3 linked regions of the Homo sapiens genome follow. The protein of the gene in region 1 interacts with the protein of each later gene in a pairwise test. Each region holds a gene or a part of one and is shown in the gene's direction. Other genes may lie near its edges.

Region 1 (7,977 bases):
TTTGATTTTGAGGCTGAGGTTTATTTTAGAGAGGCTGATTTTTTTTTTTGAGTCAGAATAATAGGAACATTCATAGTGAGTTGTTGATGAAGTGTCATTTCTGAGGCTGCCTGAGGTTCTGGTACTTAATATTGCTGGCAGGAAGTGATTTTTGTTTTAGCACTGCCTTGCATCATGCATTCCAAAGGCATTTATTCACTCAATATATAAATATTTGTTGAGTATTTGTTATTTGCCAGACACTATCCTTTACACTGAAGACAGCCCCTAGACTTTAGTTTGTAGGGTAGCACTGACAAGGGAATAGACTGTTTAGAGTGGGGTATGTGCTGTTGACAGGGATAAGCACATACTTATGGGAAGCACATAGCACACACCCCAGTGTGGACTTTATCCAGAGGCAATGAGGAGTTAGTGGATAGTCTTAAGTAGGAGACTAACATGCTCTGACTTGTGTTTGGAGACTATAGAAAAGCAAGGATTATAAACAAGAGTCCAGCTAGCAGACTTTTTTCTTTTCTTCTTCTTACTCTCTTTCGCTATAACTGCATCTCTCCAAAGGTGGGGATCTGAGGCATGTATCCACTGATCCCCGCTCCAATTGGTTGAAGGTTGCCATTGAAAGCAGTCCCTCCTGTGCATTTTGAGATTGCTGTTAGGAGCCAGCTGTGATTGCGGGACAGAAAAACTGAGTCTCCAAAGTGTGCTTGAAGTGGGAACAATGGCAGTGTAAATGGAGCTGTCCACCACAGCTGTGCTGAAATCTGGCAGGCTGACAGGACTTAGCACAGAGTTTTTGCTATAGGAGGCCTTTGCAGTAATCTTAATGAGAAATCATGGTGGCTTGGACCACTGTGGAGGTAGCATTGATAAGATCTGCTGATGGATTGGATAACTCACATGAAAGATAGGAGGGAGGATCATCCCAGGATTTTGAAAGTAATGGAATTTTTACTTACTGAGCTAGAGAAGTGTATGAGAGGAGCAGATTTTTGGGAGTCATGGAGGATGAATTGAGTTTGGTTTGGTTTGGGACATATAAGTTTGAGATACTTATTTGACCTCTGAATGGATAGGTAGTTAATAAGCTGGATACTAGAGAGAGGTCTGGGCTAAAGCTGTATATTTGGGAATCGTCATTTTGTAAGTTGTGTTTACATCTATGAGACTACAGACTCCTTTAATGAATAAGCATAAAGAGGTCTGCTGGGGCACTACAATATTTTCATGTCAAGGAATGAGAAAGGACTAATCAAAGATACAAACAAAGAGGGACCAATGAGGTAAGAGGATAGGAAGAGAGAATGGGTTCCCAGAAGCTCAATGAAGAAAGTATTTCAAGAAGGAGCTGATTAGGTGCTGCTGATGTGTTCTCATTCAGGTTTCAGTTGGAACAAGGGGAATAAAGGGAGGACTGAGGTGTTATATTTAATAATAGTTCACTGGAGATACCAAAACACCTTTGTTGGTGAAATAGTGGGGATGGCACCCTGTTTTCAGTGAGCTTAAGAGAATATGAGGGGAGAGGAATTAGGAAAAAGAGAGTAGAGACAATGCTTTATAAAGGAGTATCGCTGTAAAGTAGATGACTATATAATGACTGATCATGGAATTTAAGTTCAGTAAAGAAGGAGGTGAGAGAAGTGAAAGGTATAGGACCAATGGATTGTAGATCCTGGAGAGGTTAAAGAATTTTTGGAGTAAGGAAACTGGAGAGAGTGAGCTGGAAAAATAGTGGTAGTTGTGAAGAATGAGGTGTTTGAAATTGAGCTTATAGAGGACATGTAGGTACAAGTAAGACTAAATGTGGGAGTTGGTGGCTGAAGGAGGTAGAAGACAAGATCATTGGTGAAGAGGAGGTCAGTGACTTGATGATTCAAGTATAGGAAAGGTTATCTGTATGGGTATTGAAATCATTAAGAATGATGACAGGAAAAGTATTGGAGAGTGATAATAAGGTAGGTGCTAAGTCTTTGTGAAATGTGAGGAAACGACGTGGGCATTTACAGATGAATTCAACAGAGCATGGCGGCAGGTGGTATAGGCTAATGGCATGAGCTGCAGAGGTAGGAGGTTTTAGGGAGGAAGGTGGGGTAATGGCCTGGAAGTGGCAATGGAAAATAAGGAGGATATTCATCCCTCTCTGGCTTCAAGGGGTGTGGAAGAGAAACAGCCACCACTAGAGAAGCCTGCAGGGAAACAGTTTCTCATCCAAGTTTCAGTTAGAGCAAGAAGGGAAAGGCAATGTTCAGAGAAGAGTTTGAGGATATAGTTTATTAATAGTGTTAATAAACTGGTACAGTGGGAAAACTGTTGACTACTTTGGCATATTAGGAATGTTTTAATTAAAGTGGAAAAGAGAAAAATGAAACAAAAATTGGTGGTGTAATAAACAATTGTCACTTTAAAATAATGATTTCATTAATTCCTCAGAAAAGTAAGACTATTTTTCCACATGCTGGTTCTTTGCTTGTTATATCCTCCAATCCCACCTCCCACCAACCCCTCCCTGGTTTGTCCTAGGGAAGGAGCTGGAGAGAGAAAAATATTGAGAGGGATGTGAAATTACTAATGGAGTGAGGGTTTTGTAGAGACAGAAGAGAACAGGATCCTGAGCACAAGCTGAGGTTTTAAGAATGTGTGCATAATTGTGTTAATGGGTCAAAGAGATGGGGAATTGTTTTCCATCTGATGGCTTCTATTTTCTCATTAAAATAGGAAGTAAAGCCATCTGTTTTGTATGATGTAAAAGGGGGCAGGGTTTGGTAGAGGTTGATGTTGCCTTGCTGGAGAATGGGAAATAGCTCACTTGATAAAGAAATATTTCTAGACAAATTATAAAATCTGTTTAGGCTAAGAATTCATTTTGTAAAGGCACCGGTTTCGGTGGTTTGATGAACTTCTCTAGAAGTCTCAGCATACTGGGTACAGGAATGGAATAGCCAGATAACTGGATTAATTCAGATTGGGGTTTGTTGACAGAGATAGAATAAAAGGATTAAGGGCAGAGAACCAAGGAGGCTGTTAGGCAGGTGTTTGAAGGAATGTACTATATAGCATATGATTAAGATATGGAAGGTAGCAGAGATAGAAGGAGACCGAAAAGGAGAAAGAAAAGAATTCAACATTCTGGAGATCTTGATGAGGTAAAGGGATTGGTATATTGGGTTAAGGGCATGAGATACCTGGAAAGACGTGGTGTTTTTCAGGGAATGGGAAGTTGGAATATAAGATTTCAGATGTGGTACAGTTCCAGATAATGACAAAAGTCTGAGATGTGTCTTTTGAAGTGCATGGCTGAAGCACAGTGGAGGAGATAATGTTTGGAGTGAAGGAACTGGAAAAACTGACAGCCTAGATGCTAGAGGATTAGATGGTTTGTCCACATGTATGGTGAAGTCACCAGATATATTGGCAGGAACTGGGATAGACAGGGACCCAGGTGCTGAAGTCTTTAATGAAGGAAGGATGGTGCTTACGAGATAGAAGACAGTGTTGATTGGAGTCGAGGGTGATCTAGCTGGATGGTGGCCTTAAAGCAGCATTACTTTGTAGATGTTTATGTGACTAGAACAGCGAGATGGGTTGAGGTTCTGGTGTATTTGTGTGTATTATTCTTTCCTCACACCATCATATACCTGTTGTTTATCTCTTCTGCTTCTACTTCTTAATTACTTGTAAGATTTTTTAAAAGTCAATAGCTTTATTCATAGAAAATAACTAATGAATAATTGTGACCTTGTTGAGTTTAACGGCTCATTTTTCTTATTTCTTTGTGGAGACTAATACGATTGGTTTACTGGGCAGGAGGAACTAGACATTAGAACACTGCAAACCAAAAATCGCAAGCTGGCAGAAATGTTGGATCAGCGGCAGGCCATTGAAGATGAACTTCGTGAGCACATTGAAAAACTGGAACGACGACAGGCCACTGATGATGCCTCACTATTGATTGTCAACCGATACTGGAGTCAGGTAGCTAACTTGTTTATTTGTTCAGATTTTTATTTGACCAATTTAGTTCTCCTTACTGTTCTCTTCATTTCCAAAGTTGTGTCCTTTGTTTCTTCATAATTGTACCTACCCTTCTCCAGTTTGATGAAAACATCCGTATCATCCTTAAACGTTATGATCTGGAGCAGGGCTTGGGAGACCTACTCACAGAACGAAAAGCCCTTGTTGTGCCTGAACCAGAACCAGACTCTGATAGCAATCAGGAGCGTAAAGATGACCGAGAGAGAGGCAAGTGTTCGTGATGGATTCTATCACTGCATGCTATCTGGGTTTTTAAAGTAGAGCTCTGCTTTGAGGCTTTCCATTTGAGGGAAAAAAAATGGATTTTGTTATTTCCAGTTTATAATTTTGGGGGGCTTCTTTTTTTCCCCCTGTGTCCTCAGGGGAAGGGCAAGAGCCAGCTTTCTCTTTCCTTGCTACTTTGGCCAGCAGTTCCAGTGAAGAGATGGAGTCTCAGCTGCAGGAACGTGTGGAGTCTTCCCGCCGAGCCGTGTCCCAGATTGTGACTGTTTATGATAAATTGCAAGAAAAAGTGGAGCTCTTATCCCGGAAGCTAAACAGTGGAGGTGAGGCAAGACCCTGGAGGCCGGGAGTAGTGGAGGAGGAATAAGAATTCATTTTTGCATGCTAATTTGTAGTTTGCAAGCTTACATATTTATTTTTATTTATTTATTATTTACTTTTTAAGAGATAAGGTTTCACTGTGTCACCCAGGCTGGAACACAGTGGCACCATCATAGCCCATTGAATCCTCGAACTCAAGCAATCTTTCTGCCTCAGCTTCCGAATAGCTAGGACTATAGGCACGTACTACCACACCTGGCTAATATTTTAACCTTTTTGTAGAGAGGAAGTCTTGCTATGTTGCCCAGGCTGGTCTCAAACTTGGCCTCAAGAGATCCTCTCTTCTGGCCTCCCAAAGTGTTAGGATTACAGGCATGAGCCACTGTGCCTGGACTATATATTTTAATTAAATTTTTAGAAATTCTAACCTTCAGTGTTACTGGTAATGTCTTCATTATGGCATATTAATCTTTTATCAGTGCTTCTCATTTTGAGCCACATGACAGTCCTTTAATAAGCTGAGGAAAGAGTTTATCAGCTCTATACTGATATACTCTATTAATGACAGTTTTGTAAATAGCAGAATTAACTTTATTATTTAATAAACAGCTCTAATATCTGGATCTGTTTATCGTGTATGTAGGCTATTGATTTATAGTGATAATACTTTATTTTAAATAACAACTATATTATTTAATTATTAGTTACAGAATTTTGACTTGAAAAAGTTAATTTTTACTTAACTTATTTTTCATTATCGCTAATGTTTTTAAAAAGAGTTGGTGCAGGTTTTAGAGTTGACAGATGATCTGTATGGTTAAAAGGATTATTAGAAAATATTCTATGGATGAAAGAGTATTTGAAATAAAATAATTATTTGGGATAATTGTGTTACTCAGAGTTAATGCAAAAATTTAAATTTGTACAGTAAAGTATTTGTGTAGCTAGGTTACATCTTTAGTCATTTGTGGCATAAATACCTTGCTCAAATGCAAAAAAAATGCCTTGATTTCATGTTTTCAATAATAATCATGGTCTAGTTGTAATATCTTAATTTCCCTGCTTATCATTAAGATGTTTAACCTTTCATTTCTGAAGGAAATAAGTTGAATGTAATGGAGGTTGAACCATTGGATGAGCATATAAGAATTGTATTATTCTGTAATTTTGCTTTTAAGGGTAATTGGGCTAAGTTGTCAACAGAATTAAGCAGCTTGTAGAAGGCCTGTGAAAATTTGGTCACGGGTTTCTTTTGCTTTTCCATTAGATTATGCATTTCTGTATTTTATTATAAGGAAAACAGATACTTGTTTAAAAATATACAAGTCAGAAATACAAATAAGTAGACTACAAAAGTTTCCCCATTCTCATTTCTCAAAAGATAACCATTCTAAACAATGTGTTTTATGTCCTCTCAGACTTTTGTACTTTTGTATTAATATCTTACATCTACTTGCATGTCCCCAGCTAAACTGTGTCTTGGTTCAGTAGTTTGGCTCACTCTTCTTTGTTTCTCTAGTTTCTAGCACTGCATCTGGCATCTAGCAGATGTTTAGTCAATGGGGAATGAATGGATGTGAACCTCCCTGTCACCTAATATAAAATAATGGTGCTTTGTGTGTGCACATATGCTTCTTTCTCCTTGGGCTCTAATTGAATAGTTAGAAGGTATTGTTAAATTTTAGTAATATGGTAATTAATATGCCATGTGCATAGACTATGTTAAACTTGATTTCATAAATGAATATCAAGTGAAACAATTGTTTTATTTAAAAAGGGAATAAAATGAGTAGTATATCAAACGACTTTAAAATTACTATTTAATGGCATGCATTTTAAGGTCGGGTTTAAGTTAAAAAGTAGAAACATTACAAATAGCCATGCCATTATTTGTAACACAAAAGGCAATTGCCATTGGTAAGCTGAACTTTCTAAGAGATAAAGATGTATAAAGTATGAATTATAGCATCAGTTGTAACTTGTTTGAAAGTTCATCCCCCTGACTTAGACTGAAAATTGACATTCCTCAAATTCCTAGGACATCATCAATACAGTAGTTTCTACTTCCCCATTCCCTGTGGAATTTCTACCACGCCATTCCTCAATAACACTATACAGTCTTTTATATTTAGGGTAATTCATTATTTGGAGGTTTGGAGTTGTGTTGTGTTTTACAAAATCCCCTATGATATGATAGGCCTTCTAGAGTAAGGTAAGGCCTTCTAGAGCAAGTATAGGCCTTATAGAGTAAGGTCTATAAATTCATCTAACCCTGCCAGAGCGGCACTGTCTAACCTGCCACGGCAGTACTGTCTAACCGTGCCAGGGCGGCACTGTCTAACCCTTCCAGGGCGGCACTGTCTAACCCTTCCAGGGCGGCACTGTCTAACCCTGCCAGGGCGGCACTGTCTAACCTGCCAGAGCGGCACTGTCTAACCTGCCAGAGCGGCACTGTCTAACTCTGCCAGGGCGGCACTGTCTAACCTGCCAAGGCAGCACTGTCTAACCCTGCCAGGGTGGCACTGTCTAACCCTGCCACTGCAGTACTGTCCAACCCTGCCAGAGCGGAACTGTCTAACCTGCCAGGGCGGCACTGTCTAACCTGCCAGAGCGGCACTGTCTAACCCTGCCAGGGCGGCACTGTCTAACCTGCCAGGGCAGTACTGTCTGTTTGTTTGGTCTTTGATTCAAAAGAATTGCATTTATGGGCTTGTTTATAAATTCACTAAACATTTATTGAATTTTATTGTATTCTAGCCCTGTCCTCAGTGCTTAGGATATTGAGAGGACTAAAATTCAGTCTCTACTTCTTAACTCAGGTTATGAATCAGAATAACCTTGGGAGTTTTCTGAGCATATTCTTATTTTTGGCTTTGCCCATGGAGGTTCTTATTAAGTAGGTATGAGATAGGTCCTAGGGAAATGTCTATTTTAAAAGTTCCACAAGTGATTCTGATGGGCAAGCCTAGCTTGAAAACCATGAAAACCACCATATGACCAACCTGTTCTGTATTGATACTAAGAGTAATGCCAAGAGGTGATATGAGAAAGCATATTTTTCTTCCTGATAACTCTCTTTGATGGGTGGTATATATCCTGAGAGTATCTGGTTTCATTTAATTACATTTGGATTTCAGCTATAGTATTTGCAACTCTAATTTTAAACATACGAACTTGGTGTAATAAGTTCTATGGATTTACCTACCTGCTTTGTAAATAGTAGTGTACATTTTGGTTTTTAAGCTTCAGAAGTGCCCCTAACATAGTATTTCAGAATATATGATATGAGAATATGTGATAAGAGCATATGATTCTTGCTTTGTTATTCAGGCTGGTCTTGAACTCCTGGCCTCAAGTGATCGGCCTGCCTTGGCTTCCCAAGGTGCTAGGATTACAGCG
Region 2 (7,000 bases), on another chromosome or scaffold:
GCTGGGGCTACAGGCGCCCGCCGCCACCACTCCCGGCTAATTTTTTAGCCGACCTGATTCTTAACTGCAAGTGGATGGCGAGGCGGTGTCTGTCTTTGCCTAGAAAGGGAGGATCCTGGTGGCAGCTCTTTACTCTGCGGCTGAACTAATCTGTCTGGGCACCCAGGAACACCTCATCTGCATCCAGGGTGGGAAGGGACCCCAGAGGCATGATTTTCTGTTGGTTTTTTGCTGATGTAACTGTTGTTGCTGTTGTTTTGAGACAGAGTTTCGCTCTGTCACCCAGGCTGGAGTGCCGTGGTGCCATCACAGCTCACTGCAGCCTCAACCTCCTGGGCTCAAGCAGTCCTCCACCTTGGCCTCCTTAGTAGCTGGGACTACAACTGTGAGCCACCATGCCCGGCCAATTTTTTTTTTTTTTTTTTTTTTACACGGAGTTTCATTCTTGTTGCTCAGGCTGGAGTGCAATGGTGCGATCTTAACTCACCACAACCTCCGCCTCCCAGGTTCAAACGATTCTCCTGCCTCAGCCTCCGAGTAGCTGGGATTACAGGCATGCGCCACCACACCTGGCTAATTTTGTGTATTTTTAGTAAATATGGGGTTTATCCGTGTTGGTCAGGCTGGTCTTGAACTCCCGACCTCAGGTGATCTGCCGGCCTCGGCCTCCCAAAGTGCTGGGATTACAGGCATGAGCCACCACGCCCGGCTGGCCCAAAACTTTTAAGCAGATTTTAGATGTGCAGAGAAAAGCATAAGGAACAGAATACCACTGATGCTTCTCACCCCCTGAGATAAAATGTCACCAGTAAGTGCAGGCAGCATTTCCTACATCCTTCTCTGGGCCCTGGGTCCGTCTCCCCTCTACCCCTCCAGCCTGAATTTGCAGTTCTTCCCATGTCTGCTTGCTACTTTTCAACTTTGTTTTTTGCCCCTTTTGAAATTTGGTCAAACGAAGCGAGAATGAATCAAACATTGGTTTACAACGACCCCAAGAAGGAAGGGAGACCCAGCAGCAGAGAAGTCGCCTCCCAGCTGCCATGGGTGTGATCCGTCCCAGAGCCACAGATCCCCTGCCTCTCCCCTATGCCTCCAGGATCACCCAGCAGCCTCCATAGGGCAGAGGGTGTAGAGGAGCTGGGAGGGGCTTGAGAGGTTGGCCCTGAGGGGCTCCAGCCAGAGTGACTCTGAGCTTGTGGCTTGGACTCGTGGCTGTCATCTCCTTTCTGGAACTCTGCTGAGGCCCAGGTGGTGGTCACTGTGGTGCTCCCACGTCAGTGGGATGAGACCAAGAGCAGCCGCTGCGTGCAGCTGCCCACGTGTCATTCAGAGGACAGCCGAGTGGCCGCCTGGGAAGGCAGTGCCGCCCCAAGGTGGCAGCTGGGCAGCAGAGGAGTTGTGAGCAGTCTGACAGGTCCCTCACCCTCAGTTTCTCAGTTTTGACATCTTCAAACTTAGAGTTGGAAGAGAAGGGCAGGTGACATGGGCCCCTTATCTGAGGCACTGGCACATGACCCTGCGTCTTCTCAGGGACCTGAAGGCTGGGGAACAGGTGAAACAGTGTTTGTGCCCTCTGTGTTGTAGTCCAGCCCCAACCATCCCAACAGCCGCCTCTTCTGTCAGGGGCCCTGCGCCATGCAGTCCCACATTGTGAGCAGCGAGTGCCCCAGAGACAGGTGGGTCCCTGGGAAGGTGTTCTCTGCACCTGTGCCACTCCACTGTAGCAGGCGCCATCCCAGGGAGGCGTCGCAGAGGCCACTCAGGTCCTTCTGTGCCTGCAGGTGGCATCCTGCACCTCAGCCCTGCCCTTCAGTGAAGGCTTTGACTGTCCCTGGCCACAGCACTGCCAGTCCCCGACTTGAAGGGGAAAGCAGATTCATGCAGAAAACCTTTGTTTACCACGCCCCCTGCTGGCCATCCTGGGGCCTGCAAGTCCCCAGGACTGATCTGTTGGGCATGTCCTCGGGTGAGGTTTAAGCCACAGGACAATGTTGACTGAGCTTTCTTGTTTTGCTTGTAGCTGATGTTTTCACGCAGATTAAAGTGTTATCGGAATGCTGTCAGGTCCCTTAATGTTAGAATTCAGGGTCATTAAGTGGTGCACACCCTTCAGTGATTAGGAGAAACACAGGCGGAAATAATGATTATATGACTTACAGGCCCACAGCAGGCTGGAGGCCACACAGAGGACTGGGGCCAGGCCCTGGAGCATAGGCAGGGGACAGCTGAGAGGGTGGCAGCCAGCCTTGTCTATCGGGGAGTAGGGTGGGGTCACTGTATGCTGGTGGGCAGGTGCTCGAATGGATTTTTTACAGGAAATGGTGGATGCCGGGTGCGGTGGCTCCTGCCTGTAATCCTAGCACTGGGAGGCCGAGGCGGGTGGATCACCTAAGGTCAGGAGTTTGAGACCAGGCTGACCAACATGATGAAAACCTGTCTCTACTAAAAATACAAAACAAAATTAGCCAGACATGGTGGCGGGCACCTGTAATCCCAGCTACTTGGGAGGCTGAGGCAGGAGAATCGCTTGAACCCCAGAGGTGGAGGTTGCAGTGAGCCGAGATCATGCCATTACACTCCAGCCTTGGCAACAGAGCAAAAATCCGTCTCAAAAAAAAAAAACATAAAAATAAAGGAAGTGGTGGGAAATTGAGGAGCCCAGTCTACCAGGTGGGAGAGATGCCTCCAGGCTTCTTTCTCTGGCATCAGCTTGAGGCATTTGGGTGTGCTGTCCCACATCTGACCCCCCAGGCAGCAGCCTGTGCTGTGTGCATGCTGTGGGCCTGGGGGCAGACCTCGTGCATGATGACGAGTGCTGTTTGGGTGGCAGAGGCTGCTGGAGGAGTCTGGGTCCAGCACCTGGCAAAGCGCGTGATGAGCACAATTAAACAGGCAAGCAGCCCAGAGGCACCCCTGTAACTTGGAACCCCAAGAAGCATGAGGGCGGGGTCAGCGAGGAAGTCACGTGGTTGTGTCCAGCCGTTCCACCGGGAGCTGGTCCCTGGGAGGACAGGAAGGAACTACATTGAGGAACTGAGGTGGGGGGTGGAGAACGGGAAGCCGTGCCAAGGGTGACTCAGCCCTGCTTCTGGTGTGAGAATGTTAAACCTATGTTGAGAATGAATGCTGAGGCCCCTAACCTCACCAGGTACTCGCTGCTTCACGTTGATTAAGTCTCTTTTAAAAGCCAACAGCTCATCAAGGAAGTGGATGCCAAAACTACTCATGGAATTCTACAGAAACCAGTGGAGGCTGACACCGACCTCCTGGGGGATGCAAGCCCAGCCTTTGGGAGTGGCAGCTCCAGCGAGTCTGGCCCAGGTGCCCTGGCTGACCTGGACTGCTCAAGCTCTTCCCAGAGCCCAGGAAGTTCTGAGAACCAAATGGTGTCTCCAGGAAAAGTGTCTGGCAGCCCTGAGCAAGCCGTGGAGGAAAACCTTAGTTCCTATTCCTTAGACAGAAGAGTGACACCCGCCTCTGAGACCCTAGAAGACCCTTGCAGGACAGAGTCCCAGCACAAAGCGGAGACTCCGCACGGAGCCGAGGAAGAATGCAAAGCGGAGACTCCGCACGGAGCCGAGGAGGAATGCCGGCACGGTGGGGTCTGTGCTCCCGCAGCAGTGGCCACTTCGCCTCCTGGTGCAATCCCTAAGGAAGCCTGCGGAGGAGCACCCCTGCAGGGTCTGCCTGGCGAAGCCCTGGGCTGCCCTGCGGGTGTGGGCACCCCCGTGCCAGCAGATGGCACTCAGACCCTTACCTGTGCACACACCTCTGCTCCTGAGAGCACAGCCCCAACCAACCACCTGGTGGCTGGCAGGGCCATGACCCTGAGTCCTCAGGAAGAAGTGGCTGCAGGCCAAATGGCCAGCTCCTCGAGGAGCGGACCTGTAAAACTAGAATTTGATGTATCTGATGGCGCCACCAGCAAAAGGGCACCCCCACCAAGGAGACTGGGAGAGAGGTCCGGCCTCAAGCCTCCCTTGAGGAAAGCAGCAGTGAGGCAGCAAAAGGCCCCGCAGGAGGTGGAGGAGGACGACGGTAGGAGCGGAGCAGGAGAGGACCCCCCCATGCCAGCTTCTCGGGGCTCTTACCACCTCGACTGGGACAAAATGGATGACCCAAACTTCATCCCGTTCGGAGGTGACACCAAGTCTGGTTGCAGTGAGGCCCAGCCCCCAGAAAGCCCTGAGACCAGGCTGGGCCAGCCAGCGGCTGAACAGTTGCATGCTGGGCCTGCCACGGAGGAGCCAGGTCCCTGTCTGAGCCAGTAAGTGTGAGGATGGGATGGGGAGCGTGGCGTGGGGCAGCTGCCCTGCAGTGTATGTGGTCCAGGACCCGAGGCCAGAAGTGTCATCAGATACTCCTTTGAGGCCGGGTAGGTTCTGCCTGAGGAGGGGCCTCTGGATAAAAACAGGGCTCAGGTGGCTCCCAGCTGAGGGTGCTTGGCCTTGCCTTGGCTGCCATGCATCTCTTTAGTGCTCCTGGCCTAAGGAGGGATCCAATAAGGGCGGGCTCAGGCCAGAAGCCAAATGCAACCAACCCTGGGCAGGACCCTGTCCCCCAGTCATGTTCCTCCTCAGGTGAACTTGACTTGGGTGTGTAACTCCAAAAGCCAGGCAAAGCCTGTTACTGCCTGGGTGGCGTCCGCTGCTTGCTGGGGTCTTGGCCGTGGGTCTGCTGCCTCCTGGCTGAATGGTCTTAGGCTACATCTCCTAGAGTTGCTCAGTGGGAGATTGTCCTGCCTGTAGGGTCCAGCCCTACTGGGTCTGTGGGTTTTTTCTCCTCGTGTGCATAGACAAGAGATTGTACAAATAAAGACACAAGAAAAAGACAGAAGAAAAGACAGCTGGGCCCGGGGGACCACTACCACCAAGGCACGGAGATCGGTAATGGCCCCGAATGTCTGGCTGCGCTGTTACTTATTGGATACAAGGCAAGGGGACAGGTTAAGGAGTGTGAGCCATCTCCAATGATAGGTCAGGTCACGCAAGTCACGTGTCCACTGGGCCCTTCCCTGTTTGGCAGCCAAGGCGGAGAGAGAGGACAGCTGACGCCATTATTTTTTCTATGTATTTCAAAGACTTTAGCACTTTGACTAATTCTGCTACTGCTATCTAGAAGACAGAGCCAGGTGTACAGAGCGGATCATGAAAGTGGACCAGGAGCGTGACTGCTGAAGCACAGCATCACAGGGACACAGGCCTCTGGATGGCTGCGGGCGGGCCTGACTGATTCCACAAGAGATGGTGGAGCAGAGTCTTCTCTAACTCCCCCAGGGAAAGGGAGACTCCCTTTCCCAGTCTAATTAACGGGTGCCTTCCCAGGCACTGGTGCTACCGCTAGACCAAGCTAGGTAACGGGTGCCTTCCCAAGTGCTGGTGTTACCGCTAGACCAGGGAGCCCTCCAGTGGCCCTGTCCGGGCGTGACAGAGGGCTCACACACCTCTTCCGGTCACTTTCTCACCGTGTGCCTTCACCTCCTATCTCTATATGGCCTGGTTTTTCCTAGGGTTATTTGTTTGTTTGTTTGTTTTTTGAGACAGAGTCTCGCTCTGTCACCCAGGCTGGAGCGCAGTGGCGTGATCTCGCCTCACTGCGAGTTCTGCCTCCCGGGTTCACACCATTCTCCTGCCTCAGCCTCCCGAGTAGCTGGGACTGCAGGCACCCGCCACCATGCCCGGCTAATTTTTTTGTATTTTTTAGTAGAGACGGGGTTTCACCGTGTTAGCCAGGATGGTCTAGATATGACCTCGTGATCCGACCGCCTCGGCCTCCCAAAGTGCTGGGATTACATGCGTGAGCCACCGCACCCGGCGTTTCCTAGGTTATTATTGTAGAACAAAGATTATTATAATATTAGAATAAAGAGTAAAGCTACAAACTAATGATTAACGATATTCATATATAATCATATCTATAATCTATTTCTAGTATAACTATTCTTATTCTGTATATTTATGATACTGGAACAGCTTGTGCCCTTGGTGTCTTGCCTTGGCCCCTGGGTGGCTTGCTGCCCACACCTGCCCCAGCCTCCACATTTGAAGCCTTTTGTCAGTTTCACAGTAAAAGGGATGTACTCATCCTTGTGATTCCCTTTGGCTGCATCGTGCTGACTTTAGAGCTCCCAGCCTGCTTCTCCCAGAGCTGGCAGGCAAGGCGCGTGTTTTCCTGCTGGGTGAGGTTGGTGAGGCAGTTTTGTGGCCAGGTCGCTTGGGACAGCCCCATGCCTGGCACGCTCTAGCTGAATGTTCACGTGGCCGGCACAGCAGTGCAGGGAAAGGCGATGGCAGCTCAGTGCTGGAGCAGGGGACGCCGGGGTTATGGGGTGGGGGGCATGGGCCTCTGCTGACTCTGTCTCCCCAGGCAGCTGCATTCAGCCTCAGCGGAGGACACGCCTGTGGTGCAGTTGGCAGCCGAGACCCCAACAGCAGAGAGCAAGGTAAGGGGTGCTTGTGTGGGTACCTGTGCTCCTGGCCTGGTCGTGTAGAAGAGTAGCAGGCAGTGGAAGCCCCCAGCAGCCTTGGGTGACGGGGTGGGATGTCCCGCTCCCTCTCCCCCAAGTCTACTTCAACAAGGTTGTGGGGAGGCAAAGCCACACCCCAAGTACCTTGACTGCACTGCACAGGGTGACTCTGCCCTTTCCTCCAGGAGAGAGCCTTGAACTCTGCCAGCACCTCGCTTCCCACAAGCTGTCCAGGCAGTGAGCCAGTGCCCACCCATCAGCAGGGGCAGCCTGCCTTGGAGCTGAAAGAGGAGAGCTTCAGAGACCCCGCTGAGGGTACGTTGCCTGGCACAGACGTCACACACAGTCTGCCCGGAGGGGATCCCGTGAGCACTTGGGCAGCTCGAGACACCTGCATCATCGGCAGGTGGTCATTTCGCAGGCAGTTGGGTCCCTTGACTTTGAATGACTCATGCACAAACTTGTGGTTTGTCAAAACTTAGTCAGTGTTAGGAGAGCAGGGCTCATACCTTTAACATAAAAGACTTCTAGAAA
Region 3 (7,000 bases), on another chromosome or scaffold:
TGCAGGGGCTCTCAACTGTAATCCCAGCTCTTAGAGCAGCAGAGGTGGGAGGATAGCTTGAACCCAGGAGTTTGAGACCTGCTGGGCAATATAGCGAGACCCCATTCTCCACAAAAAGGAAAAACAAAAAAAGACAAGTAAACAAAGATCCTGATAGGATGACCAGCATAAAGTAGGTGCTGAATAAATAGAGACTGTTTATCATTATTATTATTATTATTATTTGAGACGGAGTCTCACTCTGTCACCCAGGCTGGAGTGCAGTGGTACGATCTTGGCTCACTGCAACCTCAATCTCCTGGGTTGAAGCCATTCTCCTGCCTCAGCCACCTGAGTAGCTGGGATTACAGGTGCCCACCACCGTGGCTAAGTTCTGTATTTTTTAGTAGGGACGGGTTGTCATCATATTGGCCAGGCTGGTTTCAAACTCCTGACCTCAGGTGATCTGCCCGCCTTGGCCTCCCAAAGTGGTGGGATTACAGGCGCGAGCCACCACGTCTGGCCGAGGCTGTTTATTATTATTATTTGTTAATTATTTATACCTATGTTTTCTTTTAAAATTTTACAGTTTTAATTCCTTTTTTTAAATTTTTGTTTGTTTGTTTGTTTGTTTATTTTGAGACAGGATCTCACTCTGTCATCCAGGCTGGAGTGCAGTGGCACAATCTCAGCTCACTTCAGCCTCTGCCTCCCAGGCTCAAGCAATTCTCCCACTTCAGCCTCCTGAGTAGCTGGGACCACAGATGTGCACCACCACTCCCAGCTAACTTTTTGTATTCTTGGTGGAGATGGGGTTTCATCATGTTGCAGTCTGGTCTCAAACTCCTGAGCTCAAGCAATACATCCATCTTGGCTTCCCAAAGTGTTAGGATTACAGGCATAAGCCACAGTGCCTGGCCTAGTTTTAGCTCTTATGTTTAATTAAGGTCCTTTATTCATTTTAAGTTTTATTTATTTATTTATTGAGACGGAGCCTTGCTCTGTCACCAGGCTGGATTGCAATGTCATGATCTCGGCTCACCGCAACCTCCTCCTCCCGGTTTCAAGCGATTCTCCTGCCTCAGCCTCCCAAGTAGCTGGGATTACATGCTTATGCCACCATGCCTGGCTAATTTTTGTATTTTTAGTAGAGATGGGGTTTCACCATGTTGGCCAGGCTGGTCTCGAACTCCTGCCCTCGGGTGATCCACCCGCCTCGGCCTCCCAAAGTGCTGGGATTACAGGCATGAGCCACCGTGGCTGGCCTAACTTTTTTATTTTTATTTTTTGTAGAGACAGAGTCTGGCCATGTTACCCAATCTGATCTTGAACTCCTGCTGTCATCTGATCCTCCTGCCTCAGCCTCCCAAAGTGCTGGGATAAGAGGTGTGAGGCACCATCCCCGGCCAGTTTGCAGTCTAAGTATGATGTTAGCTGTGGGTCTTTCCCTTTCCCTTTCTCTTTCCCTTTTCCTTTTCCTTTCCCCTTTCCCCTTTCTTTTTTCCTTTCCTTTCCTTTCCCTTCTGCTTTCCTTTCCCTTCCGCTTTCCTTTCCTTTCCCTTCCGCTTTCCTTTCCTCCCCTCCCCTCCTCTCCTCTCCTCTTTTCTTTCCTCTTCTCTCTCCTCTTCTCTCTTCCTCTCTCCTTTCTCCTCTGATATCTGAAGACTAAGCTGTGGATGTTTCATAAAAGTTCTTTCTGGGGTGGGTGCAGTGGCTCATGCCTGTAATCCAAGCACTTTGGGAGGCTGAGGTGGGCGGATCACAAGGTCAGGAGATCGAGACCATCCTGGCCAACATGGTGAAACCCCGTCTCTACTAAAAATACAAAAACAAAATTAGCCGGGCGTGGTGGCAGGAGCCTGTAGTTCCAGCTAGTTGGTGATAGAGTGAGACTCTGACTCAAAAGAAAAAAAAAATGCTTTCTGGCTGGTTGCTCTGACTCTTTCACCCTATAATCTCAGTGCTTTGGGAGCCTATGGCAGGAGAAGTGCTTAAGGCCACGAGTTGGAGACTGCAGCAAGCTATGATTGCAGGCCACAGAGCAAGACTTTGCCTCTAAATTAAAAATAAATAGATAATAAATAAAATAAAAGCTCTTTATTAGGTTGAAGGAGTTTACTCCTATTCCTAGTTTTCTGAGTATTTTTTGTTATAAAAGGGTGTTGCATTTTGCCAAAATTTTTTTCTGTGTCTATTTTCCTATATTCTATTGTTATCGTGTATTATATTAATTGGTTTTCAGATGTTAAACCAACCAAGCTTTCCTGGGTTAATTCTTTTTTTTTTTTTTTTTTTTTTTTTGAGATGGAGTCTCGCTGTCGCCCAGGCTGGAGTGCAGTGGCGTGATCTCGGCTCACTGCAGGGTCTGCCCCCTGGGGTTCACGCCATTCTCTTGCCTCAGCCTCCCGAGTAGCTGGGACTACAGGCGCCCGCCACCTCGCCCGGCTAATTTTTTGTATTTTTAGTAGAGACGGGGTTTCACCGTGTTAGCCAGGATGGTCTCCATCTCCTGACCTCGTGATCGCCCGCCTCGGCCTCCCAAAGTGCTGGGAATACAGATGTGAGCCACCGCGCCTGGCGTCCTGGGTTAATTCTTGTTTGGTCATTTGTAATCTTTTTTATGTGTTGCTGGATTTAGTTTGCTACTGTTTTGTTGAGGATTTTTATATCTATATTCACAAGGGATATTGGTTTGTGGTTTTACTGTGATGTCTCTGTCTGGTTTTGGTATGCTGGCCTCATAGATGAGTTGACAGTGTTCCGTTCCGAATTTCTTCGAAAAGTTTGAGAATAATTGGTATTAGTTCTTTACATATTTGATAGAATTTAAAATGAAGCCAGCCGTGTGTTTCTTTTTTCTTTTTTTTGAGACAGGGTCTCACTCTTACCCACGCTGGAGTGTTACCCACTATCACGTTTCACTGCAGGCTTGACCTCCCAGGCTCAACTCCTACCTCAGCCTCCTGAGTAGCTGGGACCTCAGGCATGTGCCACCATGTGTGGCTAATTTTTTTATTTTGATAGAGATGGGGTGTCCCTATGTTGCTCAAGCTAAAGTGAGGCAATCTGGGACTGCACTTTTCTTTGTAGGGATATTTTGATTACTCATTCAGTCTTTTGTTTTGTTTTGTTTTTTTGGAGACAGAGTCTCTCTCTCTGTCACCCAGGCTGGAGTGCAGTGGCACAATATTGGCTCACTGCAGCCTCTGCCTCACAGGTTCAAACGATTCTTGTGCCTCAGCCTCCAGAGTAGCTGGGACTACAGGGGCGCGCCACCACACCTGGCTAAATTTTTTTTTGTTTTGTTTTTAGTAGAGACGGGATTTTGCCATGTTGCACAGGCTGGTCTCAATCTCCTGAAGTCAAGCAATCCGCCTGCCTTGGCCTCCCAATGTGCTAGGATTATCATTCAGTCTTTTCACTTCTTATGGGTATATTCAGATTTTCTGTTTCTTCTTGTGTTAGTTTTGGTAGTTTGTATCTTTCTAGGAGTTTGTCCATTTCACCTATGTCATCTAATACTGTCACACAATTGTTCAATTATTCTTTTTAAATCATTTTTATTTCTGTCAGATCAGTAGTAATTATCTCTCTCATTCTAATTTTAGTAATTTGAGTCTTGTCTCTTTTTTTCTTGTTCAGTCTGTCTAAGGTTTGCCAACTTGTTGATCTTTTTAACTAACTAAATTTGGATTTGTTAATTTTCTTTTTCTTTCTAGAGATAGGGTCTCACTCTCACTCTGGAGTGAGTGGTGCAACCACAGCTTAGTGCAGCCTCGACCTTCAGGCTCAAGTGATCCTCCTTCCTTGGCCTCCCAAAGTACTGGGATTACAGGTGTGAGCCATCGTGCCCAGCCCATATGTAATTTTGATAGATCTTGCTAAATTGTCCTCCCTAGACAATTATAGACAATGTGTGTATAAATTATATTCCCAATGGCAATGTATGAGAGTACCCGCTTTTTCATACCTCTTGCCAGCACAGGGTGATATGAAACTTTTGGATTTTTGCCAATCTAATAGGTAAAACATGAAATCTTAATGTGTTTTTGATTTCTGAATTTTCTTATATTGGGTTAGCTTGGCCACCTTTCATATGTTTGAGCCAGCTGTATTTCTGTTTCTTGTAAATTATCTTTTCATATCCTTTACCTATTTTTCTACTGGACTGTTTAGCGTTTTCACTGATTTATAGGAACCTAACATTTATTAGGGAAATTATTCCTTTTCCTGATAGGAGTTGCTAGTATTTTCCCTAGTCTGCCTTGCAATGAACATTTAATTACCTGCCATGTGCAATATCCCAAGTGCTGGAGTTGTACTGTTAAACAAGAGGTCTCCAGCTGCCCTCCTGGAGGTTATGTTCTAATGCAGGGAGGTGGGGAGAAAATATACAAATAAGCAAGGTAATTTCCAGCCGTGGCCCATACCCAAAAAGATATAAAACAGGATAACATTATGATAACAGGTGAGTAATGTTTATATAACAAGCTGAGCGGGAGGCCGGGTGTGGTGGCGCATGCCTGTTATCCCAGCACTTTGGGAGGCCGAGGCGGGCGGATCACAAGTTCAGGAGATCGAGACCATCCTGTCTAACATGGCGAAACCCCGTCTCTACTAAAATTACAAAAAATTAGCTGGGCATGGTGGCACGTGCCTGTAGTCCCAGCCACTCGGGAGGCTGAGGCAGGAGAATCGCTTGAACCTGGGAGGTGGAGGTTGCAGTGAGCCGAGATCGCGCCACCGCACTCCAGCCTGGGCGACAGAGCGAGACTCCATCTCAAAGAAAGAAAGCTGAGTGGGAGATGATAGTAGAGTCCTAAAGGCAGATAGTGTTGTGTAGATAGTATCTGTTATACAAAAGGCAAGGTGGAATGAGCCATTTGTGTAGTTGGGGAAGAAGTGCTAAGACCACAAGGCAGATTGAACCCAGCATTCTTGGGGGCAGTGAAAGGAGGCCAGTGGTGCTGGGTGTCATGAGCAAGGGGAGAGGGGTATGAGGTGGGGCTGGAATGGTGGCAGACGCCAGACCCTGAGCATCTAGTAGGCCATGAGGAAGAGTGCAGATTTTATGCTAAGTGTCATGGAAAACCTCAGGAAGGTAATAAGCAGGAAATTACTGTATTGCAAGTAATTTTCCAAGTCATTAAAAATTACTCGAGAACTTTTAATGACTATTTGTTATTTCACGGTTTTATATATATATGTATGTGTATGTGTGTGTTTGTGTATATAAATACATATATTAATAGATTATAATATATATTATATATTATTATATATTTAGATATAATTACTATATTATAAATATATAATATATGTTATATTGTGTATAAATATATAATTATATTTAAGACAACTTATAAAATAAATTTATATAACATGTATAATAAATACAAATTATATATATTATATATAATAAATATAAAATAAATATATAATATATATTAAATATTTGTTTATTTATTTTTTTGAGACAGGGTCTTGCTCTGTTGCCCAGGTTGGAGTACAGTGGCAGGATCACAGCCCATTGTAGCATCAGCTTATCTTGCTCAAGTGATCCTCCTCCTTCAGCCTCCTGAGTAGCTGGACTACAGGCATGCACCACCACATCTGGTTAATTGTTTTTTGTTTTTTTTCAGACAGAGTCTTGCTTTGTCGTCCAGGCTGGAGTGCAGTGGCGCAATCTTGGCTCACTGCATCCTCCACCTCCCAGGTTCAAGCAATTCTCTGCCTCAGCTTCCCGAGTAACTGGGATTACAGGCACCCGCCACCACGCCCAGCTAATTTTTGTATTTTTTAGTAGAGACAGGGTTTCACCATCTTGGCCAGGCTGGTCTTGAACTCCTGACCTCGTGATCCATTCGTCTCAGCCTCCCAAAGTGCTGGGATTACAGGCATGAGCCACCACACCTGGCCATTTTTTTTTTTTTGAAACTGGGTCTCACTCTGTCGCCCAGGCTAGTGTGCAGTGGCGCAGTCTCAGCTCACTGCAGCCTCGACCTCCTGGGCTCAAGCGATCCTCCCACCTCAGCCTCCTGAGTAGCTGAGACCACAGGGACCCACCACCACACCCTGCTGATTTTTTATTTTTTGTAGAGATAGGGTTTCACCATGTTGCCCAGACTAATTTTTAAATTCTTGGTAGAGATGGGTGCCCCCTATGTTGCCCAGGCTGGTCATGAGCTCCTGGGGTCAAGTGATCCTCCTGCCTTAGCCTTCCAAAGGGCTGAGATTACAGGTGTGAGCCACTGTGCCTGGCCATGTGGTTATAGATAAACTGCCATTTGTTAAACTCATTGGTAATGTTGTTTTTTCTCTCCTAATTTTTAATCTTGTAAAATCTTGATAAGCAGATTGATAATTCTGATTGCCTTCTTAGGCTATTTTCCTACAATTAGCATTTATGAGCAATTTTTAAACGTTTGATACATGAAATTCAACAGCCCTCTGATGCATGCTTTTATATTACAGAATGTGTGAATGACAACTACTGGTTTGGGAGGGACAAAAGCTGTGAATATTGCTTTGATGAACCACTGCTGAAAAGAACAGATAAATACCGAACATACAGCAAGAAACACTTTCGGATTTTCAGGGTAGGTAATGAATACCCATGTATCTAGGAGAGCTGGTAATTTGGTCATTGTTTTTAGATATTTTCCCACTATAAATCTCTGCTATTCAAAGTCTGAAACAAAATGTTCTCTATTTTAGGAAGTGGGTCCTAAAAACTCTTACATTGCATACATAGAAGATCACAGTGGCAATGGAACCTTTGTAAATACAGAGCTTGTAGGGAAAGGAAAACGCCGTCCTTTGAATAACAATTCTGAAATTGCACTGTCACTAAGCAGAAATAAAGGTAATATTATTATCTTATGGTTACTGGAATTTTTTTTTTCCACTCTCTCATAGGAGGAAAATTTGTCCTGTCCTTACAGAATATGGTTTAAGTGAGTAAAGATGAGTAAGTTGCTGGGCGTGGTGGCTCACACCTGTAATCCCAGCACTTTGGGAG

What was found. The genes of interacting proteins can lie anywhere in the genome.
Region 2: the proteins of RNF20 (region 1) and TACC3 interact in binary tests that used the Homo sapiens proteins (3 or more experiments, as listed by UniProt).
Region 3: the proteins of RNF20 (region 1) and CHEK2 interact in binary tests that used the Homo sapiens proteins (3 or more experiments, as listed by UniProt).

What each region holds. Positions count from the first base shown.
Region 1 is NC_000009.12:101,536,396-101,544,372, forward strand, and holds part of RNF20 (E3 ubiquitin-protein ligase BRE1A), read left to right. Parts: intron 1-3,807; coding exon 3,808-3,975; intron 3,976-4,094; coding exon 4,095-4,242; intron 4,243-4,397; coding exon 4,398-4,580; intron 4,581-7,977. UniProt on the Homo sapiens protein: Component of the RNF20/40 E3 ubiquitin-protein ligase complex that mediates monoubiquitination of 'Lys-120' of histone H2B (H2BK120ub1).
Region 2 is NC_000004.12:1,724,521-1,731,520, forward strand, and holds part of TACC3 (transforming acidic coiled-coil-containing protein 3), read left to right. Parts: intron 1-3,187; coding exon 3,188-4,267; intron 4,268-6,366; coding exon 6,367-6,442; intron 6,443-6,651; coding exon 6,652-6,781; intron 6,782-7,000. UniProt on the Homo sapiens protein: Plays a role in the microtubule-dependent coupling of the nucleus and the centrosome. Involved in the processes that regulate centrosome-mediated interkinetic nuclear migration (INM) of neural progenitors.
Region 3 is NC_000022.11:28,724,821-28,731,820, reverse strand, and holds part of CHEK2 (serine/threonine-protein kinase Chk2), read left to right. Parts: intron 1-1,272; coding exon of another isoform or gene 1,273-1,401; intron 1,402-6,453; coding exon 6,454-6,578; intron 6,579-6,696; coding exon 6,697-6,844; intron 6,845-6,897; coding exon of another isoform or gene 6,898-6,935; intron 6,936-7,000. UniProt on the Homo sapiens protein: Serine/threonine-protein kinase which is required for checkpoint-mediated cell cycle arrest, activation of DNA repair and apoptosis in response to the presence of DNA double-strand breaks.